7 linked regions of the Homo sapiens genome follow. The protein of the gene in region 7 purifies or fractionates together with the protein of the main gene of each other region. This does not show direct contact. Each region holds a gene or a part of one and is shown on either strand. Other genes may lie near its edges. The genes, in order: AMOT, INSR, CUL2, STK3, ACAD11, WWP1 and PTPN14.

What was found.
Region 1: the proteins of PTPN14 (region 7) and AMOT purify together in Homo sapiens (affinity purification with mass spectrometry, with the first as the bait; 2 studies listed by BioGRID). This does not show direct contact.
Region 2: the proteins of PTPN14 (region 7) and INSR purify together in Homo sapiens (co-immunoprecipitation; one large-scale study listed by IntAct). This does not show direct contact.
Region 3: the proteins of PTPN14 (region 7) and CUL2 purify together in Homo sapiens (affinity purification with mass spectrometry; 2 studies listed by BioGRID, with this or other methods). This does not show direct contact.
Region 4: the proteins of PTPN14 (region 7) and STK3 purify together in Homo sapiens (affinity purification with mass spectrometry, with the first as the bait; 2 studies listed by BioGRID). This does not show direct contact.
Region 5: the proteins of PTPN14 (region 7) and ACAD11 purify together in Homo sapiens (affinity purification with mass spectrometry; 2 studies listed by BioGRID and IntAct, with this or other methods). This does not show direct contact.
Region 6: the proteins of PTPN14 (region 7) and WWP1 purify together in Homo sapiens (affinity purification with mass spectrometry; 3 studies listed by BioGRID). This does not show direct contact.

What each region holds. Positions count from the first base shown.
Region 1 is NC_000023.11:112,830,553-112,834,651, forward strand, and holds part of AMOT (angiomotin), read right to left. Parts: exon of another isoform or gene 3,073-4,099; intron 1,819-3,072; 5' UTR 1,742-1,818; intron 1-1,741.
Region 2 is NC_000019.10:7,168,316-7,172,414, forward strand, and holds part of INSR (insulin receptor isoform Long preproprotein), read right to left. Parts: coding exon 3,975-4,099; intron 2,437-3,974; coding exon 2,222-2,436; intron 1-2,221. UniProt on the Homo sapiens protein: Receptor tyrosine kinase which mediates the pleiotropic actions of insulin.
Region 3 is NC_000010.11:35,031,097-35,035,195, reverse strand, and holds part of CUL2 (cullin-2), read left to right. Parts: coding exon 1-24; intron 25-1,922; coding exon 1,923-2,030; intron 2,031-2,701; coding exon 2,702-2,761; intron 2,762-3,576; coding exon 3,577-3,705; intron 3,706-3,809; coding exon 3,810-3,896; intron 3,897-4,099.
Region 4 is NC_000008.11:98,707,057-98,711,155, forward strand, and holds part of STK3 (serine/threonine-protein kinase 3), read right to left. Parts: intron 256-4,099; coding exon 91-255; intron 1-90. UniProt on the Homo sapiens protein: Stress-activated, pro-apoptotic kinase which, following caspase-cleavage, enters the nucleus and induces chromatin condensation followed by internucleosomal DNA fragmentation.
Region 5 is NC_000003.12:132,572,431-132,576,529, forward strand, and holds part of ACAD11 (acyl-CoA dehydrogenase family member 11), read right to left. Parts: intron 3,497-4,099; coding exon 3,342-3,496; intron 1-3,341. UniProt on the Homo sapiens protein: Acyl-CoA dehydrogenase, that exhibits maximal activity towards saturated C22-CoA.
Region 6 is NC_000008.11:86,345,060-86,349,158, reverse strand, and holds part of WWP1 (NEDD4-like E3 ubiquitin-protein ligase WWP1), read right to left. Parts: intron 1-4,099. UniProt on the Homo sapiens protein: E3 ubiquitin-protein ligase which accepts ubiquitin from an E2 ubiquitin-conjugating enzyme in the form of a thioester and then directly transfers the ubiquitin to targeted substrates.
Region 7 is NC_000001.11:214,366,097-214,370,195, forward strand, and holds part of PTPN14 (tyrosine-protein phosphatase non-receptor type 14), read right to left. Parts: intron 3,596-4,099; coding exon 3,361-3,595; intron 1-3,360. UniProt on the Homo sapiens protein: Protein tyrosine phosphatase which may play a role in the regulation of lymphangiogenesis, cell-cell adhesion, cell-matrix adhesion, cell migration, cell growth and also regulates TGF-beta gene expression, thereby modulating epithelial-mesenchymal transition.

The sequences.
Region 1 (4,099 bases), on a different chromosome or scaffold from region 7:
ACACCAGAGTCCCATGAAATCCCTCCCTCATTTAATGAAAAATTCTCCCGCTCTCATTTTTCCACCAGGGCAGAGCAGGGCTCCTGGGAGGGAAAGAAGCCAAGAGAAGCAGTGTAGTATCCCAGTGGCTTGCGAAATGGCAGAGTGGAATGCGGGCTCCCCTGTGAATCCAGCTTGCATGCACTTGCCCCAAATTGCCACCCAGCCAAGAAGCTAATTAGTAAAAGCATCAGGTGGGTGAAAACAGGTTCATGGCCTGTAATAGCTTATATCATCTTTCATTTTTGCCCTTGGAAAGATCTGACAGTCAGCTTGAAGACATTCAGTTCTTGTGACCCAACCTGCTTACATTCTGAGAATTGAATTTGTCAGTTTTTAGATCCCAATCTTCAATATATCTTAAGGGACATTTTGCTGTATAGAACTAAGCAGGCATGATCAATGAGCCTGTGTGTGTAGCTCTATTTTCAGCCTCAGTTAAGGTGGCACATTTAAGGTCAGCCCTGTTTAATACTAGATGACTAAGTGACACCTGTCTTAAATGGTCAATGTATTATAGACAGAGGTTGATTTGCAGACCTGACCATAAAAATCATCCGGTCCTAAAGCAGGGGAGGCAATAGGTCAGAGATGCCCCTGGTTTAACAACAGTGGACACAACAGGCATTCCTTCCGTGACTTCTTAGCCAGAACTCTCAAAATAAGGCAGTTCTGCTGTCCATCTTCTCTTTGAAGATTTTTCCCTAATCCCTCTCCATCTATTCCTGACCTCAACTCTGCTCAACATGGAAAATGAATTCTCTATGATGACACTTATCACAGCAAATTTTCCATAAACTTTTACTGAGCACTTACTGTAGCCAGACATTGTGCTAGGTAAGGCCTAGGGTGGCAATAAATAAATAAATAAATAAATAAATAAATAAATAAATAAATAAAAAGAGAGCCCAGTACTTGAGGAGCTCCCAGTCAGGCAGAGGAGGCCCAATTCAACGGGAAAACAGAGGTATGAGCTAATAGCTCCGGCAACACATAGGGCTCTGCAAAAAACCCTGGGCTACCTGAAAAAGCTCCCAAGAGGAGGAAAATATCAAAAACCTATAAGCTGAGTAGAAGACATGGAGTGTGATGACCAATTTGACATCAAAGATAGGTTGAGATATATCTTTGGGAGTCATTAGCATATGGATGACAGCTAAGGTCATAAGAGAGGGCTGGACCATATTGACTAGGAACAGAACAGAACCCAGGATGAAACTAAACATGGACTTCTGGGGAAAAAAAAAAAAAGATCATTCAAGGGTTAGGTACTTTGCAAATGTGGGAGGGAAAGAAATTCCTTTATTTATCCCGATGGCCTTTCCTCCCATATATCTCCAAGCTAGACCTTGCAATACACAGCTCCAGGGACAGAAATCCCCAGCTGTAGTGTGGAGAGAAAAAAAGAAGTTAACTCTCACCTTTTAAGCTTCTGAGTGCCCTGGTAGCAATCACTATTACGGGTTGAGCCAGAAATGGAAAGGGAAGTTGCTAGACTGTAAGATCTTAGAGGGCATGGGCGGGGTGCGTGATTTTTCATTGTATGCATCCCAATACCTAAAACATTAACTGGTACATAAAATGTGCTTAATAGTTGCATACTGAGTGAATGATAACTTCCCCAAAACTTTGCTAGAGGCCACAGCAGGAGAAGAAAACAAAGAAAGACATGGAATAACAATAATAATAATGTTATTATTACCTTTAGTTTCTCAGCCTTCCTTCTAAGGAGACAAAAGCTCTTTCACTCTGCTATCTTATTTGTCCTTCTTAGCAGCTCTGTGGGGAAATAAAGGCAGATGTGATTAATTCCATTTTAGAACTGGAGAGGGAAGCTCAAGTCCAGAACAGATAGCTAATCATAACTAATTGGACCAGAATTTCACTGTTGCCCATTGGTAGGGCCAGCATTGGAACCCAGGTCTTGCGACTTCCTGCCCTGTGCTTGGTTCTAAGACATAACCCTCCACAGAATTGCCCCTCCAGTTTTTAAGAGGACAGTTCACAAGAGAAATTCATTAGGAAAGCAAACTCCTGAAACACTCTAACAGTATCTTGAGCAAGTGAGTGAGCTGCATCTAAAAGAAAGTAATCTGTTTCCCCACGCCAACACTGGGATGACTAAACCCAGTTCCCAGTGGGGCTCTACTAACATAATTGAGAGCTCCCTGTTTCGCTGTGCCCCTTTTCAAGGGAGCCCCATCTGCCTTCAGTCTGGTTTTTGTGTCTGAGTGGGGCTCAGGTGCTGACTGCAGGTGTGGCATCCAGCAGGTGTATGGACAGGAGCCAGCATTTCATATCTTCATACCAAAGGGCCTGAGTCACTCTCTGAAGGCAGAAGGCAGCCCCTCCTCCTCCTGCTGTTGCCTTGCAAGCACAGGGAACCTGCCTTGCCTGAGGTGCCACTGCAGAACTGAATCTAAACCCTGCCTTCCCAAGAAGGACTAAGGTGAGATTAAACCACAAATCATATAACCCAGCTAACTTTCTTATTTGCACAAACTACTGCAGGCATACACCTACACCGTGGGCACAGCATATGGGAACCTAGGTACAGAATGACCGTCACCTAAAGTGATGCGGGGAAAGGAGGGCCACAACTGGCCCATATTTTACATTTGGCTATAAAGCATTGACTCTACTGCAAATGGCCCTAAAATCTCAGAAGCAAGTACTCACCCCCCTAAAAAAAGGTGGAGTACAGTAAAAAGAACCTGCTAGAAATCTTGCACTCCTGTTCTCACCATAACCTCTTTCCTTCAGGCTTCCAAGGGAGAACCACTTAGCCTGGTCACAGAAAGCACCAGGTCAGAAAATTCATCATGTTCCCCTAACCAAAGCCCAACTGGTCCCAGCCTGAGGCAGACAGAATGTTCCTGGGAGTAAAGGGGGGGGGGGGGTCATCAAAATTTTCTTAGCTTCAAAAACTGTTTGCTTTTTAAAAAAACAATCTGCCTCCCCTACTCTCTCTCTCAGGCACACACACATAGACCAAAGAGAAACTAATTGTAGAAGAAAAAAATGAAATCTTACCTTAATAAAATGGTTTGTTGTCATTTGTTCTATTTCCCTAATTCATACGGGAAATTCAAATAAGCTTTGGTTTATAGCCCATGATCCAGAAAGCAAAACTGGCTACCACACTAAAATGTGATCATTGTATATAAACATAGTAAAACAAAACTCTGAACTGAAAATCTAAATGTAATAAAGAGGAATTAGGTTTCTTCAAAACAGGCAATCTAAATAATTTTCCCCATCTGTGATTTTTATCTTAGTTTGCTATCACATGGAACAAATGTCACTAATTCAATGCAAATACATGCCCCTTGAAAACAACCAAAATGAGTAAGGGATGTACTAATTAGCTTCCTAATGGGGAAGGTTTTAATTGAGCTATTCTTTAACAATCTTCATCAAAGTTTCCAGGGCAACTTCATAAAAGGATGTCAAACCTGGCCCATATTTTTATTCCCTTAAAAATAATTTTCAATACACAGAAACACAGAAAGCTGATTTCTCTTCAATGCTGTTAACACTCAGGCCACTACATTTTCTGATGTCAGCAATCCCCTTCCCACAAATATTCCAAGTATGCACCACCGTCATTCTCCTTTCAATTATGTGGTTTCTCTGCTCCTTTACTGATTGAGTCCAGGCCTCTCGGATAATGAGAAGCATGTGCAGGGAAAATATGCTCTTAAAAAACACATACATCAGTTTTATCTGCATTATAAAGAGGAGAGCAGATCGTTTGTCCATATCAAAAAGATTGAAATGTGAAGTTTGCTATGGGGTATATATAAGGGGAAAAAAAGATCAGTATCAATGCCTAAGGTTGATAGGGGGGCGGCACAGTTATTGTGATCTGATGTGACACCAATAAGAAGAAGGGAGACTCTCCACCAAATCCACCCTTTCTAGCTTGGCCACATTTATATTTCATGTTATCTTAATGTTTCTTTTGGGGGTATTTAAGTTCTGACATACACATGGAAATGAGCCACGAATTGTACAGCAAGCATAAATATTCCATCATTAATAAAATCCAGCTGTGTAT
Region 2 (4,099 bases), on a different chromosome or scaffold from region 7:
ATGACTTGACTCAGCCAGACAGTCAACTGAATAAGCGCAGTCTGTACCCGCGCAAGAAGGACAACCGGCCAATAGTTATTGGAGGAAGGGATTTCCAAGGGTGATGTTTGTCCTGACACAACGTTGTCTCGCATATGGACTTGTAAGACTGACCTGGAAGGAGGTGCAACTCCAGTGCAAATAAACCTATGCCAAGTGAGTTTAGAGACCCTGCAGATCATTAGACATCGGAGAGACGCATCTAAGTAATTCTCTCTGCCTAGAAGACAAACCCTCTCCTAAACCTCACCCCAACCTCGCTCTCTCTCCTTGCACTACATTTTTTTTGAGACAGTCTTGCTCTGTCACCAAGGCTGGAGTGCAGTCCACCTACCGGGTTTAAGCAATTCTCATGCCTCAGCCTCTCAAGTAGCTGGGATTACAGGCACCCACCACCACGTCCAGCTAGTTTTTGTATTTTTTTTTTTTAGTAGAGATGGAGTTTCACCACATTGGCCAGGCTGGTCTCGAACTCCTGACCTCAAGTGATCTGCCTGCCTCGGCCTCCCAGAGTGCTGGGATTCCAGGCGTGAGCCACCATGCCCAGCCCTTGCACTACATTTTGACATAAGTAACTAACTCCCCATGAAGGTATCCCAGAAGCCCTTGGCAGCTCACTGTTTAGAATCTGTCAGGGAAGTGCAGTCAGCAGGCAGCCTGCAGCTGCAGAAACTGCAGGACCTGCTGTAGCATTCCAGCCAAAACCTGACTCTCCCTGGACAGCCCCCACCTATGACTGAGCTTGGTAGATGCCTGGCCGTCCCTTTGCAATGCAGAACTTCCCTGCAGACAACCGTGGCCTTGATCTCTTTCTGGGTTTGGCCAAGACTCAGGGATGCATCACCATCTGAGACTCTCCCAGCCCTATCCTCCCTCCTTCCCGCTCTCTGTTCACAGAGGTCAGACACACGCTATTGTCAAAAGGCTCTTCATGGCTGAGCGTGGTGACTCACACCTGTAATCTCAGCACTTTGGGAGGCCGAGGCGGGAGGATCACCTGAGGTCAGGAGTTCAAGACCACCCTGGCCAACATGGCAAAACCCTGTCTCTACTAAAAATACAAAAAAAAAAATTAGCCGGGCTTGGTGGCATGTGCCTGTAATCCCAGCTATTCTGGAGGCTGAGGCGAGATAATTACCTGAACCCAGGGGAAGGAGGTTGCAGTGAGGCAAGATCACGCCACTGCACTCCAGCCCTGGGTGACAGAGCAAGACTCTGTCCCAAAAAAAAAAAAAAAAAAAAAAGAAGCTCTTCCTCTGTTTCATATTTTATGAATATTACCCTCAATACATTTTCTGCACTCCTAACTTCAACTTGGCAGTCACTTCCCAGGAGATGCAGACTGACATAGGTATTTTACTCAACTTTGAAGTCTTCAGCATCAGCCTGATACACATATAAGAAGGTGTCATCCATTCATCCATCATTCATTCATCCATTCATTCAGTGCTTGTATGACTTCATCCCGTATCCGGTACTATATGGCACAGTAAGCATAGTGATAATATTAATAAATGTGCAGAATCTGCCCTCAGTAAGAAAGCCTATCACACAGTGAGTTGTTAGAGGGAAGTAATACCCCCTGGGGGTGACTGTGATGGATGAGAGAGGACAGCCACATTATCTGGTTTGTGGACCACTTACAGCAGGGGTCCCCAGCCCCTGGGCCACAGACCAGTACTTATCCATGGCCTGTTACGAACAGGGCTGTACAGCAGGAGGTGAGTGATAGGTGAGCAAGTGAAGCTTCATCTGTATTTACAGTCACTCCCCATCGCTTGCATGACCACCTGAGTTCTGCCTCCTGTCAGATTAGCGGCGGCATTAGATTCTCACAGGGGTGTGAACCCTATTGTGAACTGTGTACATGAGGTACCTAGACTGCACACTCCTTATGAAAATCTAATGCCTGATGATCTGTCACTGTCTCCCATCACCCCCAGCTGGGACCATCTAGTTGCAGGAACACAAGCTCAGGGTTCCCATTGATTCTACATGATGGTGAGTTGTACAATTCTTTCATTATATATTACAATGTAATCATAATAGGAATAAAGTGCATAGTAAATGTAATGCACTTGAATCATGCTGAAACCATCCCCACCCACCACCAGTCCATGGAAAAACCATCTTCCACTACACCGGTCCCTCATGCCAAAAAGGTTGGGGACCAGTGACTTACAGGATGCCTGGTCCCCATTGGTCTTCAGGGCAATGTCGTTTCTCTCCTGGCGCCCCTTGGTTCCTGAAACTTCTTCCATCTTGTGGATTTCTGACAAGCAGAGTTTGGGGTTATAGTGGAAGAAGAGTTTCCCCTGAGTGATGGTGAGGTTGTGTTTGCTCCAGTCCCAGAGCTGCCTTAGGTTCTGGTTGTCCAAGGCATAGAAGGAGTAGTTCCTATGGAAAAAACACACACATCTAGTCATTCAACGGCTGGTCTTCTACAACTCCAAGATGGTGTGGCCATGCTCGGAGTTGATCTTGTTCAGTGCTACGTGCCTAATCCTCTCCACTTGCTTGGCACATACTCAACACATATTTGTTGAATGTGGATAACAGAGGAAGTTGAGGAAGTTTTCATGGCCAGGAAGGAGGCTCAGCTCAGTCTTGAAGAGGGGTGGTGAGTCTGTGATGGACTGAGGAATAGGTTTTGCAGAAACCAATTTCTGCAAATAGGGGAAATACTGATAACACAGAGGCACCTAAGCTGAGTTCAGGGAAGAGCAAAGTAGCCTGTTTTGGCCAATAGGTGACAGGAAATAGCTGTAGTTGCAATGGACCAGACCCTCTAGTATATTGCATGCCAGACCAAGACCAAGAACATGTGGCCATCCTTAATAAGGAGAAAGGAGCCATTGAAGGTTTTTGTTTGTTTGTTTGTTTGTTTTATTGAGATGGATTCTCACTCTGGTGCCTAGGCTGGAGTACAGATAATATAGTCTAAACTATATTGTTTAGACCACCTTCTCAAGTCACTTACCAGCTCATGTTGATTAACATGTCCTTTTGTCCCTTTCCCCATTTGCTGTCTGTTCTACAGATGTGAGGCTGGGGCTGAGGCAGCCATCTTGTGACCATGAGGAGCACAAAGATGGAAAGAATCTGGGTCTTCCACAGACCTCCTGCCTATGAGTCAATCTTGATCTAGCTAGTTTGAGTTTCTGCTGTTTTGCTAATAGAGTTTCTAGGACCTCAAGGAGAAGGTTGGAATATACTGGAATATACTGAGATGGAGTCCATCCCAGAAATTAGGATGGACAACCGGGACTAAGAGGGAATGTTCATTTTATGCATGCCAAACTCTACTCACAATGCAGCCCAAACAGCAAATTTAGCAAAAATTCCAGCCTGTACCCTTGGAGGATGGGCACCAAGGTTGGGCTGCTCCCACTTTTGTTTCTCAAGAATGACTATAAAAAAGCTTTTACAATTTTTGGCTGGATGGACCTTTAGGCACATTCCAAGTTCTTTTTTCCCGAGGTTTTGCCAGATATACTTTTATTTGTTTTTTATTTGTTTTTATTTGATTTTTAAAAAATCCTTAAGTTTTTCCTTTTCTTTTCTTTTTTTTTTTTTGGACAGAGTCTCACTCTGTCACCCAGGCTGGAGTGCAGTAGTGTGATCTTGGCTCACTGCAACCTCTGCCTCCCAGGTTCAAGCTATTCTCCTGCCTCAGCCTCCCAAGTAGCTGGGATTACAGGCATGCACTATCACACTTGGCTAATTTTTGTACTTTTAGTAGAGACAGGGTTTCACCATGTTGGCCAGGCTGGTCTTGAACTCCCCGCCTCAAGTGATTCACCCACGTTGGCCTCCTAAAATGCTGGGATTACAGGCATCAGCCACCACACCTGGCCAAAAAAATCCTTAAGTTGTTCTAATACACGAACTTCCTAGTTAGCACTCAGGCCATACACACAATCAGGCCCACGTACCCAATTTCCAAGGTCTCTCCTCGAATCAGACGTAACTTCCGGAAGAAGGAAAGTGACACCAGAGCGTAGGATCGGCGGATTTTTAGATACCCTGAAATTTCTTCAATGAGGCCGAGGTTGGCTTC
Region 3 (4,099 bases), on a different chromosome or scaffold from region 7:
ACCAGCAACCTTACTCAGGAAAACGTGAGTTGTGTGGGAAACTGCAATGTTTTCCTCCTAATCAGATCCAGCGTGGAGCCTTTCCTTTGACTTTATTGTTTTGAAAGATGAAAGAAAAAGTCTTACCATGCCAACGAAAGAAATGTCTTTATTCAAATGTTTTAAACCTAGAATTTGTTGGACTCATTTTGGAATTATCAGATTATTAGAAAGCTATTGATAGGCTGCTGCTTAGCCATACGGAGGGTGTCCATTGAACAGTTGTTAACTTTCCACAGGAAAATAAGCTCGCCATTTTTAAATAACTGTGTTTTTGTGTAATTGGCATTGATAACGTAGTTTGTTGTCATGGTAGTAGTATTAATCAGTGGTAATATAGACGACTTGCAATTTGCCTCCTTTCCATATCCTCTGAATTTGGTTGTCCAGGAAGCAAATTTAGATTAAAATAATCTTCTGTAAGTATATGCTTGCTGCCCCAAATACCCAAAACAATAACCCTCATATCCCTAATACTCATCTTTCTCGAATACTTTGCCAATCACATGACTGTAACAGTTTGTACTGTAACAGTTTGTCTTTCCCATCACCAAATCTTGTTATTACTGGTAATGTTTGATGAGCAAGAGAGAAATAACTTCAAATGTTACTGTCTCTTCTTAAGTAGAGCTGTTTGCCCTTCATCTATAAGATAGTATCTGTGTATAGACGTCACTGTTCAGGAGCACTTTTTAGAGGCTGTTACCTTAGCTGCAGATTGGTTTTTGGCAAGTAATAATTTTTAGTTTTTATGTTATGCCACAATAATGTGTAAGTTTTCTATTTTTTTATTTCTTCAAATTCCCTTTACCACAGTTTTCTATTTTTTGTAGAACTATTAGTTTATAGTATTCAGGTTTATTACTCTATTATTTGTCAAACTTACTAGTTTACATTATTACGTTTATAGATTCCATGTCCAATGACATTGGGCATAGAAGCATCGAATTTTGTGTCAAGGCTGGGAGATGGAAACATAAGTGAATACATTTGTGGTAGACTCAAATCCAACTGACTTAGTTAAGTCTTAGGTAGTAACTTCTTCATGGTTATCTCCATTAAGAGGGAAAACTCACTTTTGTACTATTAGGTATTTCTTCTCTCTGAGATGTGAGGGATTGTCTTGCCGAGTTCAAGGGGTCTCTGTTCTCAGGATTATTGGCTTTTTAACTCTCCTTTCTCTCAGCCTTTAGTGACTTTGCAGGCAGTCTTTGCTTATTTAAGCCTCTATGAAAGTGATAGACCTGGTAGTTCAGGTCTTGTTATCCTTAAGATAAGTTATTCCAACACAGTAGAAAAGTATGCTTTTGGTGGGTTCTTCTGACAGGTACTAGACAGTCTATGACAGCTTGTTGTGTTGAATGACAAGCTATTTTCTTTCTTCCTTTTTTTTTTTTTTTGTTGTTGTTGTTGTTTTTCTGAGACGGAGTCTCACTCTGTCGCCCAAGCTGGAGTGCAGTGGTGCGATCTCTGCTCACTGCAACCTCCACCTCCCTGGTTCCAGCAGTTCCCCTGCCTCAGCCTCCCGTGTAGCTGGGATTACAGGTGGACGCCACCACGTCTGGCTAATTTTTTTGTATTTTTAGTAGAGACGGGGTTTCACCGTGTTGGCCAGGATGGTCTCGATCTCCTGACCTCATGATCCGCCCGCCTCAGCCTCCCAGAAGTGCTGGGATTACAGGTGTGAGCCACTGTGCCCAGCCTTCAACACCAAAGTTGTAAATTTCTAAGACCGTCTTAGCTAAAACCATTTTCTGAGAAGTGTGCATGTGTGAAACATAATTTCCTTGAGGAAAAATTTACTAATAAGTCTAATAAACCTCATAGTTTGGATATCCTTGAACCTCTTAAAATGTGGTTTTGTACTTATATTTCATTTTTAGATGCCAACACTATTTGTGGAGTCAGTTTTGGAAGTGCATGGTAAATTTGTTCAGCTTATCAACACTGTTTTGAATGGTGATCAGCATTTTATGAGTGCGTTGGATAAGGTAAGTTTTAAATACATATATACTATATATGTACATAAAACTCTATCATTCTTTAGGCAGTTTCAAGATCAGAATTCTAGTATGAGGTTTCTGATGTAGACATGGAGATTAAGTAATTTTGATATGAAATTCAAAATAGAAATAATATAATTTTTAAATTATTAACTGAATAGTTAAATTGAATGCTTGTAGAATGTCCCGTGATTATGCTATATAAGGGGAATTTTTAATCTGATATGTTCTGGATAGACATGCATAATTTTGCAATTTTTAGTACTGATTTTTTTTCTTTGGCCATAATACTTAGGCTATATTGAATAATATTTGAAAAGAGAATAGATATGTTTTACATGAACTTTTGCATACGTTAAAGGAAAGCTGCTTACAAGATTGTAAGTTTTTTTTTAAGTAACGTTATTTTATCTGTTCAAATTTCGATAATGAGTTACAGAATATCTTGGAATAGCAACAGGATATATAGATATTTTGTAATTAGAGAATAAAGTCAGAGGAGTCTACCATGTTAGGCATGAAAATATTAACAAACTACCGGCAATGCTGTGTTTTATGTGGCGGGGTAATTTTTGGATGTACAGATTATGGCTTATATTGAACTAGCTGTACTTTTTCCCTATGGCTGGTGGTTAATTATGGCGTGTTTTTTTATTCAGGCCCTTACGTCAGTTGTAAATTACAGAGAACCTAAGTCTGTTTGCAAAGCACCTGAACTGGTAAGTTTGGTGGTTGCTGAAAAGTAATCTTATGAAAAGTCAGTATTAGAAAATGAGAACTCAGAATATCAAATTAATTTGGTTTTTGTAGCATTTTTCAGAAAAATAGAAGGAAAATTATCTACATTGTATATAGTTTGGCATTTATGTAAGGAATGCAATATACTATGTGTCTTAAAGAATAACCATTTTACAAAGTTTGGGTTTTAATGTATATCTACTTTGAAATAATTTGCAATACTTTTCATGTAGATTCTGTTACATCTGAAATCTAAAGGAAATCTGATGATAAAGTTTGGGTAACCTTTGAAGGAAACTTGCTTACAAGATTTTTGTAACTTTTTTTTAAAGTACTTGTTCAATGTCAAAAATTATAAAACCACTCGAAACTCACCTAGGTGTTCTTTTAAAAATTTGTATTACTTATATCAGTTGCTTTATTGGTCAATAAGTGATGATTTGATATTTGACTTGTTCTTTTTAAAAATTTACCTTATGATGTATATTTTATTTAGTTTACATTTATGATTATTACATAAAGCTTTAGAAGCCTGGTGTGGTTGTGCATGCCTGTAGTCCCAACTACTTGGGAGGCTGAGGCAGGAGGATCCTTTGAGCCTAGGAGTTTGAGGCTGCAGTGAGCTATGATCTTGTCCACTGCAATCCAGCCTGGCAACAGAGCAAGACCCGGTCTCTAAAAAAAACAGCAAAAATTCTGTCCGCTGATCTTACCTTGTATCACCACTTTGCCTCCTTTGAGGCGTGATATATACAGAAGCACCCTTTGTAAGATTTATTATCAATTTCTACATGAGCTTGCTAAGTACTGTGACAACTTACTGAAGAAGTCAGCGAAAGGGATGACAGAGAATGAAGTGGAAGACAGGCTCACGAGCTTCATCACAGTGTTCAAATACATTGATGACAAGGACGTCTTTCAAAAGGTATGTTGTGAACAGAAAAGTTTCATTTGTATTTTGGTCAACTTTATTTCTGAATGCTAAATCATTAGAAAGGAAGTAATCTTTTAAAATATTTTTAAATGTAGTTCTACGCAAGAATGCTGGCAAAACGTTTAATTCATGGGTTATCCATGTCTATGGACTCTGAAGAAGCCATGATCAACAAATTAAAGGTAATGTAAGTCTTTAATGTGGTATTGTCCTAGAAATTCATTCACAAGCACATAAAGATGTTCATTGCAGCATTGTGTACAGTAACAGGAAACAATTCATCTGGTTAAATGTGTATTTGTGTAGTCACACAGTGGGATATACAAATACTGTATTAAAAGGACAAAATGTATATGTTTATATATGAAGATTCACAAGATAATCA
Region 4 (4,099 bases), on a different chromosome or scaffold from region 7:
CATTCCCCCTCAAAAAGTAATTGAAGTTTAGTTATAATCAAATCTGAACAAATTAGCCAAGTGTTTAGAAAACCATTAAAGTTAACTTACTGTTAACTGACCAGCCACTCCAAAATCTGCCAATTTTGCATGTCCTTCTGTATTGAGGAGAATATTTCCAGCTTTTATATCTCTGTGTATTTTTCTCATAAAGTGCAAATATTCTAGTCCTTTCAATGTAGATTTAAGAATGGTTGCAATTTCATCTTCTATTAACTGGAAAGAAATATTTTTAAAACCATAATTAAAATGCCACGTTAGATAAAATCTTACGAAAGAGCACTAGTAACAAGTATGTCTTTCCGTGTGTGTGTGTGTGTTTTTTTTTAAGAGACCCCACTCTGTTGCCCAGGCTACAGTGCAGTGGTGTGATGATAGCTCACTGCAGCCTAAAATTCCTGGGCTCAAGGCATGCTCCCACCTCAGCTTCCCGAGTAGCTAGAACTACAGGCACATGCCAACCCAATAGGCTAACTTATTTTTATTTTTGTAGAGATGGGGATCTCGCTATGTTGCCCGGGCTGGTCTTGAACTCTTTGCTTCAAACAATTCTCCTTCCTCAGCTTCCCAAAGTGTTGGGATTATAGGTGTGAGCCACCATGCCTAGCCACAAGTACTTCTTTCTAATGACCGCTAAACCTCCAGGAAAATGCTAAAGGGGTAAATAATCGAGAACCTCTTCTTCCCACAATAAGCTTTCTTATTACACATTTTACTAATGAAAGGATGATCAAATTTCTCTCTTTAAGATTATCAGTATCAGCAGGGCGTGGTGGCTCACACCTGTAATCCCAGCACTTTGGGAGGCTGAGGCGAGCAGATCACTTGAGGTCAGGAGTTCAAAACCAGCCTGGCCCACATGGTGAAACCTCGTCTCTACTAAAAATACAAAAATTAGCCAGGCGTGATGGCGTGCACTTGTAATCCCAGCTACTCAGGAGGCTGAGGCAGGAGAGTCACTTGAACCTGGGAGGCAGAGGTTGCAGTGAGCTGAGATCACATCACTGCATGCCAGCCTGGGCGACACAGCGAGACTCCATCTCAAAAAAAAAAAAAAATTATCAGTATCATTCCTAAAGCAAACAACATATCTCAAGAATCAGCCTGATATAAGGAATCATAATAGTGATTTCCCACATCTTCTAATACTGGGAGGGCACTATCACAGCTAATATCTGTTCTGAAAAAGTAAATTCAGATACTTCCCCTGAGATATTTCAGATTCTTGATGAAAATGAAACCAACAGCTTTACATAAAGGAAAGTAAATGAGGGAGGGAGGCTTGCAATGAATCTTCTGCGAGAAGCTCCTACACCAATGCCACTCCTAACCCTTCCAAGTTCTGGACTTCTGACCTAATATTGAGAACTCAGAAGAAAAAACGTCAGAGAAAGATTAGGAAAATGGAAACACAAGCAAAGACTATCAGAGGAGGGAAAAAGGGGAGAGTAGAGAAGGCCGAGGAAGAGACGGATGGGAAAGAAAGAAAATCTTCTTAACAGTTGTAGCAGTAGAGCCACTGCTATCTGTACCAGGCAATGTGCTAAGAGTTATGCATGCATTCTCTCATTTATTCTTAAAACAACCTTGTAAGGTAGTGTGATATTATGAAATCACAGGAAATATTTGGTCTTTGTAGGTTCTTGGCACAAAATCTCCTAAGACCCTGTGAATTGACTGAGTGAGTGAGAAGTTGAATCAAGATATTTTATCTTTGTTTTCTCACCCTCTCACAAGAGTGAGAGGGGCTGTCTTTTGTCATTCATAATAAGCTCCTTTCAACCATACCAGAATTTATACTGATCAGGTGACTCTTGGTGGGAGCCTAGATAGCTTCAGGATGGGAGCTGGTTGCCGAAAAAACCAACCAAGTGATTAGATGTTTGGAAATTTCTGCCTGACCCCTGACTTACGGGAGGGCTGCAAGGAGAGAGGGGGTAGAGATTTAGTTAAGCACAAATGTCCAAAGACTTAATCAATCATGCCTATGTAACAGAATCAACCATAAAAATTCTAAATGATTAGGGACTGCTCTCAAGCTTATATTCTATCTATAAGCAACGGGATAATTTGATAGAAAATAGGATAACACAGGAAAATGTCTGTGAAAATTGCTATGAGGACAACAATAGAGAGCTACTGATAGAGAACGACTGAGAAGCTACTTTAGATTGACATTCAAGAAGGCCCAAAAGACATTTTACTGAAGTCTAAATGATATAATGGGGCCAACCATGTGAATGGCTATCTGGGAACATACACTCCACAAAAAGGAAAAAAAAAGATTAAAATATCTTGATTCAACTTCTCAAATTTTCTAAAACACTGAAGAAAAGAGAACACTTCCACACTCATTTTAAGAGGCATTATTCTGATATCAAAGCCAGACAAAGTTACCACAAAACAACTAAGACCAATATCCCTTATGAACATTGATACAAAAATCCTCAACAAAATATAGCACACTCACTTCAACAGGATTGTAACAGGTTATACACTATGACCAACTGGAATGTATTCCTGGAATGCAAGGTTGATTCAACATACAAAATCGAACAATGCAATACACCACCTTAACAGAATGGAGAAGAAACCACATGATCATTTCAAATGAAAACAGAAAAAGCATTTGATTAAATTTAACTTCTTTTCATAAAACACACAACTAATATGAATAGAAGGAAACTATCTCACCATAGTAAAAGCCATATACAAAAAACCCAAAGTAAATGTCATACTCAAAGCAGTAAGACTGAAAGCTTTTCCACAAAGATCAGGAACAATGAAAGGATGCTATTAGGTTGGTGCAAAAGTAATCGCAGTTTTTGCCATTTTTTTTTTAAAGTAATGGCAAAAACCGAAATTACTTTTGCACCAGCCTAATACTTCTGTTACATATAGTACTGGAGGTTCTAGACAGAGCAATTAGGGAAGAAAAACAAATAAAGGCATCCAAACTGGAAAAAAAGAAGTAAAATTATCTCTGTTCACAGATGATATGATCATATATGTAGAAAATTCTAAAGATTCCACAAAAAAAACCTATTAGAACTAATAAATAGGGATGGAGACAAGACGGCTGAATAGGAACAGCTCCAGTCTAAAGCTCCCAGCGTGAGCATTGCAGAAGACACATGATTTCTGCATTTCCAACTGAGGTACCAGATTCATCTCACTGGGGAGTATCGGAAAGTGGGTGCAAGACAGTGGGTACAGTGCACTGAGCATGAGCTGAAGCAGGGCGGGGCATCACCTCACCTGGGAAGTGCAAGGGGTCAGGGAATTCCCTTTCCTAGTCAAAGAAAGGGGTGACAGATGGCACCTGGAAAATCAGGTCACTCCCACCCTAATACTGTGCTTTTCCAATGGTCTTAGCAAACGGCACACCAGGAGATTATATCCCGCGCCTGGCTTGGAGGGTCCTACACCCATGGAGCCTCGCTCACTGCTAGCACAACAGTGTGAGATCAAACTGCAATGCGGCAGCGAGGCTGGGGGAGGGGCGCCTGCCATTGCCCAGGCTTGAGTAGGTAAACAAAGCAGCCAGGAAGCTCAAACTGGGTGCAGCCCACCACAGCTCAAGGAGGCTGGCCTACCTCTGTAGACTCCACCTCTGGGGGCAGGGCATAGCCAAACAAGGCAGCAGAAACGTCTGCAGACTTAAATGTCCCTGTCTGACATCTTTGAAGAGAGTAGTGGTTCTCCCAGCACACAGCTGGAGATCTGAGAACAGACAGACTGCCTCCTCAAGTGGGTCACTGACCCCCAAGTAGCCTAACTGGGAGGCAGCCCCAAGTAGGGGCAGACTGACACCTCACACAGCCCGGTACTCCTCTGAGACAAAACTTCCAGAGGAACGATCAGGCAGCAACATTTGCTGTTCACCAATATCCACTGTTCTGCAGCCTCCATTGCTCATACCCAGGCAAACAGAGTCTGGAGTGGACCTCCAGCAAACTCCAACAGACCTGCAGCTGAGGGTCCTGACAGAAGGAAAACTAACAAACAGAAAGGACATCCACACCAAAACCCCATCTGTACATCACCATCATCAAAGACC
Region 5 (4,099 bases), on a different chromosome or scaffold from region 7:
ATATGAAGAATCAATATCATTAAAATGACTATACTGCCTGGGGCAATTTATAGATTTAATGCTATTCCTATCAAGCTACCAATGACACTCTTCAAAGAACTAGGAAAAACTATTTTAAAATTTATATGGAACCAAGAAAGAGCCCAAATAGCCAAGGCACTCCTAAACAAAAAGAACAAAGCTGGAGGCATAATGTTACTTGACTTCAAACTATACTACAAGGCTACAGTAACCAAAACAGCATGGTACTGTTACAAAAACAGGTACATAGACCAATGTAACAGAGAGCCCAGAAATGGGGCCACATACCTACAACCATCTGATCATTGACAAAGGTGACAAAAACAAGCAATGGAGAAAGGACTCCCTTATTCAATAAATGGTGCTGGGATAACTTGCTAGCCATCTGCAGGGGATTGAAACTGCGCACCTTCCTTACATCTTAGCCATTTTTTTGACGTTTAATTGTCCTTTTATTTTCCTTTCTTTTCTTCTTTATTATTTTAAGTTCCGGGATACAAGTGCAAAATGTGTAGGTTTGTTACATAGGTATACAGGTGCCATGGTGGTTTGCTACACTTATCTACACGTCATCTAGGTTGTAAGCCCTGCATGCATTAGCTATTTGTCCTAATGCTCTCCCTCTCCTTGCCCCCACCCTCCAACTGGCCCCGGTGTGTGTTGTTCCCCTCCCCATGTCCATGTGTTCTTATTGTTCATCTCCCCACTTATGAGTGAGAACATGCACACCTTGGCCATTTTTATGCTTGGTCATGTTTGCCCTTCAACAGGGGATATTTGATTAGAGTTTCCCTAAAGCGGTGATGTTCAACATGATAGCTACTAACCATATGTGGCTAATGAGCATTTGAAACATACCTAGTCTGAACTGAGATGTACTATAAGTATAAAATATGCACCCCATATTGAAGAATAAATATTAAAATATAAAGTATCTCATTAATAATTTTTATATTGATTTCATGTTGAAATAGTATTTTTGATATATTGGGTTAAATAAAATATATTATTAAAATTAATTCCATCTTTTTCTTTTCACTTTTTAAAAATGTTGCTATTAGAACATTTAAAATAACATTTAAGGTTCATAGTATATTTCTTTTGGATGGCACTGCCCTAGAGGTTGAAACATGGCTCTGAATTAATTTCAAACAAGTTGCTGGTGGTGAATAAATATTTTTTGATGGCTGTAAAACAGGATAATTACAACTTTATAACTTCATGAACAGACTTAGAAGACATTTACTTCTCAGCTTTAGAATAAAGGAGGTATTCTCAGTTGGGTCTCTATAGACCCTAGATTTGCTGAAAAGCATTAAATGGGTAGAAACTAGGTGCTCTAGGGAACTGCCAAATATATTTCCTAAGACAGAACTGGGATGGAGAATTTTTTGCGTTACAGCCTGGAGTAAATTAGAAGGCAGCTGGAAGGAGCCTCCAAATTCAAAGAAATGAAATGTTCCTTTCACAAATTAAAATAAAAAAGCTGGCCCAGATTTTTGCTTATGACATGCTCACACATCTTTTTGTTTCTGCCAGATCACGTTATTTGTGCCAGATGTGAAAAGTTTCCAGTGAAAACAGGCATATTTGTTAAAAAGCCAGGCTTGCTCTGCATGACACATTAACTTTAAAAGGTGGAAGGGAAATTTTTTACTAATGCAGTATTAAAACACCACTCAGGAAAGCAGCACTTGCACAGAGGGCTTTTGTGCATTCGCGATGCTTGTTTGTCGACTTTACTGTGTCCTCCCTTCACCCTGCTCCAGAGTTTGCATGCAAGCTTGACAAAAGGGTAAGAAGTAATGGTTGGTGCCCTGAGCACCTCTTCATCCTTCTTCAACAGCATCAGAGGCTGTATCCAGGGCCCCAGAGGGTCACACTTTCTCACCTCCTCCCACAGTGCCCAGCCAACAGCTGAACTTTGCTGTATACTAAAAACTTGCCTTCGCTGTATACTAAAAGGGCTCCTGACAAATTATTCCCAGGTGTAGTGTCATAAAGCGGGCTGTAGCTTTTCAGTTAAAAAACTATACAAATAAATCATATAATGCTGAATAATACTTTACAAAAAGCAAACATAGATTATAATAATTTAAGGTAAAAAATACATACTGCAAATTTCATAAGATGGTCAAAAATGTATAAGGAGACCGACATACTAAAATATACATGTGCAGCAAACACAAATACAATTCCATCACCACAGATTTGACCTAACACTAACATGTTAGCAATAATAAAGAGTGAACATTTAATAATAGTTTTTCTTGCCTTCTTAAAACTTAGAAGGGAGATGATGTGGATATCCTACTTCTCTGTAGAAGACTTTTTAAGGAAGTCTGAAATAATACCTTCTATTTCATCTCAATACATATTTCCTAATTTTTTTTCTTTTTCTGGAGACAGAGTCTCGCTCTGTCGCCAGGCTGGAGTGCAGTGGCACGATCTTGGCTGAACGCAACCTCTGTCTCCCGGGTTCAAGCAATACTCCTGCCTCAGCCTCCCCAGTAGCTGGGACTACAGGTGCACATCGCCATGCCTGGTTAATTTTTTTTGTTTTTTTTTGTATTTTAGTAGAGACGGGGTTTCACCATGTTGCCCAGGCTGGTCTTGAACTCCTGAGCTCAGGCAACCCACCCGCCTCGGTCTCCCAAAGTGCTGGGATTACAGGTGTGAGCCACTGCGCCTGGCCATATTTCCTAATTTTTATTATATGGGCCACATGTAACTATGTTTACAGTGATTTGTAACAACAGACTCAGTAGTATATAATTTACAGATGATAATTCAAAAAGTCATGAATATCTCACAAAATGTTGGTCCCATTTCTACTTGTGTTTCTCCAGTGACAGAATTCAAGTCCTCCTGAAGAAGCTGATTCCACTTTTAGGTTTATTAGCATGTTTCTCCTTTCCCTGAGTTTTGGGCTGTTTTCCTGTAACTTTACACTTATGTGTCCTAATTCCTTCTAGGAAACCAATGGACAAGGCAAATCCTTCTTCCTTATGACAGCTCCTTCATGTCCACAGGGAGCTCTAATGTTCCAGGTTCTCTAAAGAACAAGAATCTGAGAAAGTTGAAGGAACTGTCTACACTCTTGTGTGCAGAGGTGTTGAAGCATTTTAGGAACTATTTAATTTTTCATAAAGATAAATACCTCTCATTAGACTATATTTAAATACAGACATAAATATGCCTTATTGAAAAGAATCACCCGGTTCATGTAGAGAAAGTCTGTCTCTCACAAGTAATGTTTTTGTTCAATGTTAGTGTAGTGCACCGGGCTACAATAAATTCAAATAAGTAATCGTCCTCACATGTGCATACAACTTCTTCTTGAAAGCTATCCTTTGTGTTGCCCGCTCACACATGATCTGCAAAGCGCGTTCCGCCAAACCTACTGTTCTCATACAGTGGTGGATTCTGCCAGGTCCAAGGCGGCCTTGGGAAATTTCAAATCCCCTACCTTCACCTGGGAAGAAAGGGGAAAAAAAGGGGGAATGTGAAAATGGCCTAGCCCATTCCTTTTGTTATTTATACAAATCCTGGGAAAGAGATGAGCTGCCCTTAATAAAAATGGCTTTCTAGTGAAAAAAAGTCAGTTCTATAATAAGGTTCACTATGAATTCATGGGAATTTTGATTTCTATGTTTTTAAAACCACCACCATTAAACATTTCAAATTTCAGAACTGTCTCTTAAGTATGTACTATGCATAAGCTATTTTATTAATGCTGCAATAGATACAAAGTTGGAATAACACATAGTCCCTGTACTAGGAGTTTAGAATCCAGAAGAGTGGGTAAGGGTAAGAGATACAGAGAGAAACAAAGGCAAAGGAAGAAGAGATTTTCTGTTCATCATTATAACCTCAGGGCCTGGCAGGTATCAGGGGCCTGGTGAATGGATGGGATGAACACAAAAACATTCCTGGAAGAGGTGGTATTCTAGATGTTCTTTGAAAGGGATATAGTATTCTAATAAGCAAGAGGATGGCATACAGTGTTCAAAGTTATTTATGCTTCTAACTTATATCTAATACTTGAATTCATAAAGTACTGAGGTTTTCTTAAAAC
Region 6 (4,099 bases), on a different chromosome or scaffold from region 7:
TCCCAGCTACTCGGGAAGCTGAGGCAGGAGAATTGCTTGAACCTGGGAGGTGGAGGTTGCAGTGAGCCAAGACTGAGCCACTGCACTCCAGCCTGGGTGACAGAGTGAGACTCCCTCTCAAAAAAAAAGATCTGGTTGCTTCTGTTTTGTACTCTTGTGAGCCCTAAGCCATCAGCTACCAGGTAAGGCCAGCAACTCTGCTGGAAAGGCTACTTGGAGAGAAAAGCAGCCATTAGAGTGATCACCAGCAAAACCTGCCCAACTGAGCCCAACCCAGGAAAGCAAAACTGTAACAAAGAAAATGGTTGTTTTAAGTCACTTGGTTTAGGGCTGTTTGCTACACAGCAGTACATAACTGAAACAACACTCACCTGGTTCCTTGTGTGTTCTGCATAATTTGTTCAAACCCCAGAAAAAGGAGAGGTATAATTAATTACACTCCGCAAAATTACAACCTGAGAAGATAAAGTTCTATGCCCTTGTTAATGTTAGTGATTCCACTAAACTCCAGGTTCCAAGAGGAAAGGCTTCATATCTGTCATCTCAACACTGTACTCCCAGCACCTAGAAATATGTCTGGCACATAGTAGGTACGCCAGTATGTGCTGTGAGTGAACTGTAGATTTAAGAAATGTCAAGACGGCCAGGCGTGGTGGCTCATGCCTGTAATCCCAATACTTTGGGAGGCTGAGGCGGGCAGATCACCTGTGGTCTGGAGTTCAAGACCAGCCTGACCAACATGGAGAAACCCCGTCTCTACTAAAAATACAAAATTAGCCAGGTGTGGTGGTGCATGCCTGCAATCCCAACTACTTGGGAGGCTGAGGCAGGAGAATCTCTTGAACCCAGGAGGCGGAAGCTGCAGTGAGCCAAGATTGCGCCATTGCACTCCAGCCTGGGCAGCAAGAGGGAAACTCCGTCTCAAAAAAAAAAAGAAAAAAGAAATGTCAAGACTAAATCAACAAATGCTACTCTTCCTTATAACTTAAAAACCATGCTAGTCTTCCTTATAACTTAAAAACCATCTGACGTATGGTTTTACATTATACATTCCCTAAAAAAGTTGTTTAAATGTATGAATTGAAGCATCCACTAAGGAGGGCTTTTTAATATCTTTGGGTTTTTTTCAATGGTAGAGCTTATGATCTAATACAAAAATAATAAAATATCATGATACAGGTTGAGTATCCCTAATCCAAATATCCAAAATCTGAAATACTCCAGTGAATGTTTCTGTTGAGTAATGTAGGTGGCTCAAAGTTTCCCATTTTGGAGCATTTCAAACTTTGAATTAGGGATACCCAATCTATATATATTTTGGAAATTAGATCCTCATTTATATCCTCAAAAAATGTAAATTTTTGAAGACTAAGCTTTTATAAAAGGGAAACACAAACTTCATCTGTAAAAGCAACAGAATTAAATTCAAAATTTTCAAAAAAATAAATATCTACATTTCACCAATGTACTTTTCCAGATAAGAAATCAACTTTTGCTTTATCCTTGACAGGAGAATAACTATTCTGTGGTACAATGCTTACAAATTTAAATATCACCTACCAATAGCCACTGCAGTGAGATTACCATTTTAACACAAAGGAAAAAACTGACAAGTTTACCTCTACACGGTACAAAAGTTTAACACATTCCAAACAGGTAAATTCAAATCCTTCACATACAGCTCTTAACTAATGATGTTCCATTGTACATGAAGAGTAAGAAGTCTGGTGGGAAAAGAATACTGACATAGGAACAAAAATAAGGGTTTTAGTTGTAGTTCTAATTGTGGCCACTAACTAGCCACATACTTTGGAAATTTAACTTTTTAAACTTTTTTTTTAGCCTCAGCATATTCATCCAAAAAGCAATGATTGGCTGGAAGCGATGGCTCACGCCTGTAATTCCAGCACTTTGGAAGGCCATGGTGGGAGGGCCACGAGTCCAGGAGTTCGAGGCCAGCCTGAGGAAACACAGCAAGACCCCATCTCTATAAAAAATTTTAAAAATTTAGCTGGGTGTCATGACATACACCTGTAGTCCCAAGTACTTGGGAGGCTGAGGTCTAGGCTTCAGTTTAGCCATGACTGTGCCACTGAACTCCAGCCTGGGCAACAGAGCAAGACCCTGTCTCAAAAATAAATAAATAAAATAAAATAAAATAAAATATAAAGCAGTTATTACTTCCTAACACACCAACTTATCAGTTGTCATGAGAACCAAATGATAAATATAGTTATTATTTACAAATGTGAAATGCTATACTAACATAAGGTATAGTACAATTCTTAATGCCAGCAAAAACAATAAAATTCATCTGTGTATGTTTTTATCATTTTTCCTCCATTAAGTATTAGTAACTAGTTCCTTGGATACCACTATAAAGGGCAATTTATTGGATTTTCCAATGCTCATTATAATTGTATCATATTTTTATACAAAGAGTAAAAAACAACAGTCTTTCTAATAATTATGAAATCAAAGTTTATTAACATGTAATAACATGCTATGATTACCTATTACCAGGGAGATAATCTTACAGGTGCAGAAAAGTCAACTGTTTACCAATCGCACTACACTTTAACCGTACTAGCTAGCTACTTAATCCACCCAAAAAAAATTGAGTAGGAATCTTCATTTACATTGTGAAGTCTCCATTTTTATTTGATAAAGGCTTCCTGAAAGAAAAGAATATTCTGAAGGTATAAATGAACAGAGAAGATAAAGTTCTTTTTTTTTGAGACAGAGTCTCGCTCTGTTGCCCAGGCTGGAGTGTAGTGGCGCAATCTCGGCTCACTACAAGCTCCGCCTCCCGGGTTCACACCATCCTCCTGCCTCAGCCTCCCAATAAAGTTCTTAAAGTTTCTTATTTCACTTACATCACCTCTCTCCTCCCTACTCCCCAGCCCAAAGTGAGACATACAAAGAAAGTAACAATCCAAATGAATGATCTGATATTGCTAACTGCTCTTCTCTACCCAATTCATCCCTCAGACTCACCAGCTCTCATGCACATATTAAACAAGGAGAGTAGATACTCTGATGAAAGTCTAGGACTCGAGAATCACAAAATGTTAAAAACTAGAAGGAATCTTGTGGGATCATCTAGTCTTACTGACAAGGTCATTTAAAGGCAGTAACTATATTTAATTGATGGTAAAGCCACTGCATTATCTTCATACATGAAAGAACACCATCATTGTCAACAATCTCCTGATTCCACTTTACCCACCAGCTGAATGATGCTTCAGGCAAATCATTTAAACTCCAGGAATAGTTTATTGTGTAATATAATAGCAAATAACATTAGTCAAAATTCTCTGTAAACTGTAAACCACAACACAAATGTAATATTGTGTTTCTGTATATATACAGCATATCTCTACAGTAAGAGTTCTTATCAGTACACAGAAGAACCTGAAGGTTCTACTGTTTTAAAAAGCTCCCAGTAGGCCCGGCAGGGTGGCTTACGCTGTAATCCCAGCACTTAGGAAGGCCAAGGCAAGCTGATCACTTGAGCTCAGGAGTTCAACACGAGCCTGGGCAAAATAGTGAGACCCCATCTCTAAAAAAAAAATACAAAAATTAGCCGGGTGTGGTGGCAAGCGCCTGTAGTTCAAGCTATTCGGGAGACTGAGGCAGGAGAATCTCTTGAGCCTGGGAGGCGGAGGTTGCAATGAGCCCAGAAGGCGCCACTGCACTCCAGCCACAGGGACAGGAGTGAAAGAAATCCTGCCTCGAAAATAAAAAAAGCTCCAAGAAATTCTGAGATGAGTGTCATGGATGACTTTCAGGTGTTCCATGGACTCCCCTAAAATTATATCCACAAAGCATAGGCGCATATGGAAATTTTCCAGGCCAGCATTTTACCAAGAATTAGTAATCTCCAAAAAGTTGTAAAGTAGCACACATATGCTGAGGGTAAAGCTTCATGATCTTGCTCAAAATGGTACCACTGTTCTCCCAACCAACCTGGATCAGAATCAGTTATTTTTACTTTCATTTGCCCTCTCATCAAATTTTGGCTATTCGACTTCCTTTCTTCCTTTCCATTCGCGTGCACCACAGCTCAGATCCTCACTATCCATGACTACAACAACTG
Region 7 (4,099 bases):
AAAAACTGGAGGCGGAGGTTGCAGTGAGCCAAGATCCCGCCACTGCACCCCAGCCTGGGCACCAAGAGCAAAACTCCGCCTCAATTAAAAAAAGAAAAAGAAAAGGAGATGCCGTGAGATGCATAGAGGGAGTAGTTACTATTAGGTACCAATACAAGCTAGATATTGTGTGTGGAATCTTCTTTACAATTTTTCTGCGAGGGGGAAAAGACATTAGGCAACTGAGTATTCTATCTGACCAAAGGCAATATTTACATACAAGAGACAAAGCTTTACTTGAGCTAAATTTAAGAAGAAAAATAAAAGGAATGTTGGGTAATACGGTAGATGCCACTTTCAAATAGAGCTTTTCATGTAATGGAGAGAAGGTGGATTCAAAGGATGTTTCCTCTATCAGTCATACTAATAAAGTTCCTTACGCTGTAACTCAATAAAGACTTCTGGCGGGCAGTAAACAATTTGGCTCAGGTACTCTGCATCCAGGTAATCTAATTTAAACATGGGCAAAAATCTTTTAAAACCTAGGAGAAACAGATTCAACATTTCTAATGCCCTGCACAGAATACGTGTATTGACTTTCCTAAAAGCATAATACATACATTTACATTCTTTAAAAATACTATGTATTGGCCGGGCGCGGTGGCTCACGCTTGTAATCCCAGCACTTTGGGAGGCCGAGGCAGGCGGATCACGAGGTCAGGAGATGGAGACCCCGTCTCTACTAAAAATACAAAAAATTAGCCAGGCGTGGTGGTGGGCGCCTGTAGTCCCAGCTACTCGGAGAGGCTGAGGCAGGAGAATGGCGTGAACTCGGGAGGCGGAGTTTGCAGTGAGCCGAGATCTTGCCACTGTACTCCAGCCTGGGTGACAGAGTGAGACTCCATCTCAAAAAAAAAAAAAAAAATACTATGTCTTTTTTGGTAATTTAGACAGGCTTTCCTTAATTGGTTCTGATTTAAAAGACTATACTTTAAAGTGCCTTATAAGCTCACTCTTTCATCAGAGCTGTTAGCCAATCAACAAACTGATCTATTTATATTATTTCCCTTTTTTGCTTCTTGGAGAAAATTTTAATAAGTCAATTAGCACGTGATCAGGTGAAAGAAATACAATGAGCACTGTTAGGAGGAAAAGAAGTTCTGTAAAGGTCACTGCCCTTATTTCAAGCTACAGATAACAAGCCATTTGACTTCAGGCAAATCACGAGTCCTCTCTGGATCTTACTCTAGATTCTCTGACTCCAATCATCCTTCTACTCTCTGCTTTCAGTGCCAAACCCCTCAAGTACCATCGTCACTTTCAAGGAAATGAAATGCTTGTATTGCTGGATAAGTACACATCGGAATATTTATTGGAACTTGTAAATCAGTATTTTTAGGTCTTGAGAACCTGTTCTCTCCCTCTGTCATTCCCCTTTTCTCCCATTCTAAATGAATACCAAAATAAAATCAAGGTTTTGACATGATCCAACATCTGGATCATGGTCCCTCCATGGTGGTCACAGGTCTTCCACTAGCTGGAGAGTCAACAACAGAGCAGGCACAAGGCTACAGGGAGCATCTGGGGCTCCTTTCCAGGTGGGTGAGTAAAGAACGGGGTCTCCTGACAAGCACAGGACAGTTAGATGAGCATGTGGAAAGCAAGAGGGAGAGCTGCAGCCACCGCTGAAAAGCAGAGGAGGGTATCAGATCTCATCTTTGGACGATGATGACTGGCCTGTCTTTCCCATTAGGCTCTGAGTACGTCGGAAGTGAAGACTGAACTCAGTGTCATCTCTGCATTCTCAGAGCCCGATCCAGTGCCTGGCACGTAGTGGGTACATGCCCAATTTTGGGTCTTTCAAATAAAAATACTGCACATAATCTGGTGAATTAGTTTCTAATATAACCACATTCTAAAAGTACACATACACAGAAATTAATGAATTAGCCATTGAGCAAATTTCAGTTTCAAAAACTACAAGAGGGTTTCAATACTTCTTAGTGTCTTCATAAAAATATGAGAAAGTACGAGAAAGTACTGAGATGCTCAACTGTAGGGAAATATAGGTCTTGTGAGATGCAAACCTTCATGAAAACAATTTTTTTAATGTTATTCGTTTTTATTTATTTATTTATTTATTTATTTTTGAGATGGAGTTTTGCTCTTGTTGCCCAGACTGAAGTGCAATGATGCAATCTTGGTTCACTCCGCCTCCCAGGTTCAAGCAATTTTCCTGCCTCAGCCTCTCCAGTAGCTGGGATTACAGACATGCGCCACCACACCTGGCTAATTTTGTATTTTTAGTAGAGATGGGGTTTCACCATGTTGGCCACGCTGGTCTCAAACTCCTCACCTCGGGTGATCCGCCCACCTCGGCCTCCCAAAGTGCTGGGATTATAGGTGTGAGCCACCATGCCCGGCCTATTTTTAAGTTTTATTTCTCCTTTTTTTTAAAATGTGCTAAAGTGGACACAACATAAAACTTACCAGTTTAACCATTTTTAAGTACACAGTTCAGTGGCATTAAGCATAGTCATAGTTGTGCAACCATCACCATCATCCATGTCCAGTACTTTTTCCCTGTCCCAAACAGAAATGTTGCACCCATCAAATGTAATTCCTGGCTGGGCACAGTGGCTCACACCTGTAATCCCTGCAATTTGGGAGGCTGATGCGGGCAGATCACTTGAGACCAGGAGTTCAAGACTAGCCTGGCGAACATGGTGAAACCTCATCTCCACTAAAAATACAAAAATTAGCTAGATGTGGTGGCTGTGCCTATAGTCCCAGCTACTTGGGAGGCTGAGGCAGGAGAATTGCTTGAATCTGAGAGGCGGAGGTTGCAGTGAGCTGAGATTGTGCCACTGCACTCCAGCCTGGGTGACAGAGCGAGACTCCGCCTCAGAAAAAAATTTGTAATTTCCCAATCCCCCTTTGCCCCAGCCCCTGGTAACCTCTCACCTACTTTCTGTCTCTGACCTTGCCTATTCTAGGAACCTCATATAAGTGGAATCACATAGTTTTTGTCCTTTTGTGACTGGATTATTTCCACTCAGCATCATTCCTCAAAGTTCATCCTTGTTGTAACATGTGTCAGAATAGTTACTGATTAAATGAGTAGCTAAAGGTCTGAATCAAGGTAGAGCCAATATGTTGATCACAGTCTTAGCTTACGTGCATGAAAGGTAAACAGAATAAGTGACATGTATTATTATACTCTGTTCTACATAGTAAGAAAGGAATATATATTTCAATATTATAATACTTTTGCCACTTAAGAGAAAGCATCCTCTTTTTCCATTTCATCTCCAACAGATGAATTATTGACACAGATCATAAAAGTCAGTCAGGTAGCAGACTGGGAAGAAAAACACTTACATAAAAATCCTTGGACATCTTCTGGACAGCCGTGATCTGGCCAGTCAGTATATTGTAAATGCCACACCGTCCTTTCTTGCCCAGACAAAAGGTGCTTGACCTTCAAGCCCGTGGTTGCATAGCAAACAGAATCCGTTCGAAACTTCGTGGTGACCTTGAACTTGCCATAGGTGGCTGAGCTGTGCTTTGAACCTAGTTTGGGCCAGTATCGGTGGCTTTTGGTTCGTCCACCCTCCTAAATCACATATAAAAGCAAAATTGGAAATAGGTCAAGGGAAGCTCTCATCCTTTTAATCCTAAGATATGAAGACAGAAGAAAATGCAAATAGCTTCTAAATCGCTAGTTCAGTAGCACTCTGCAGTGTCTACCACAGGGTAGATCCTATACATGCTAGTTAAGACCAATAACACAATTTACAATGACAGTTACATCAATGGAAAATTTAAAAGATTCACAACCGAGGTGCAGTAGAATGTTAGAGAGAAGTGCAAGTGCAGTCTAGAAGCAGGAACAAGCTTCGTGCATTCAAGAAACAAAGGTCAGCCGGGCGTGGCGGCTCACGCCTGTAATCGCAGCACTTTGGGAGGCCAAGGCGCGTGGATCACAAGGTCAGGAGATCGAGACCATCCTGGCTAACATGGTGAAACCCCATCTCTACTAAAAATACAAACAATTAGCCAGGCGCGGTGGCGGGTGCCTGTAGTCCCAGCTGCTGGGGAGGCTGAGGCAGGAGAATGG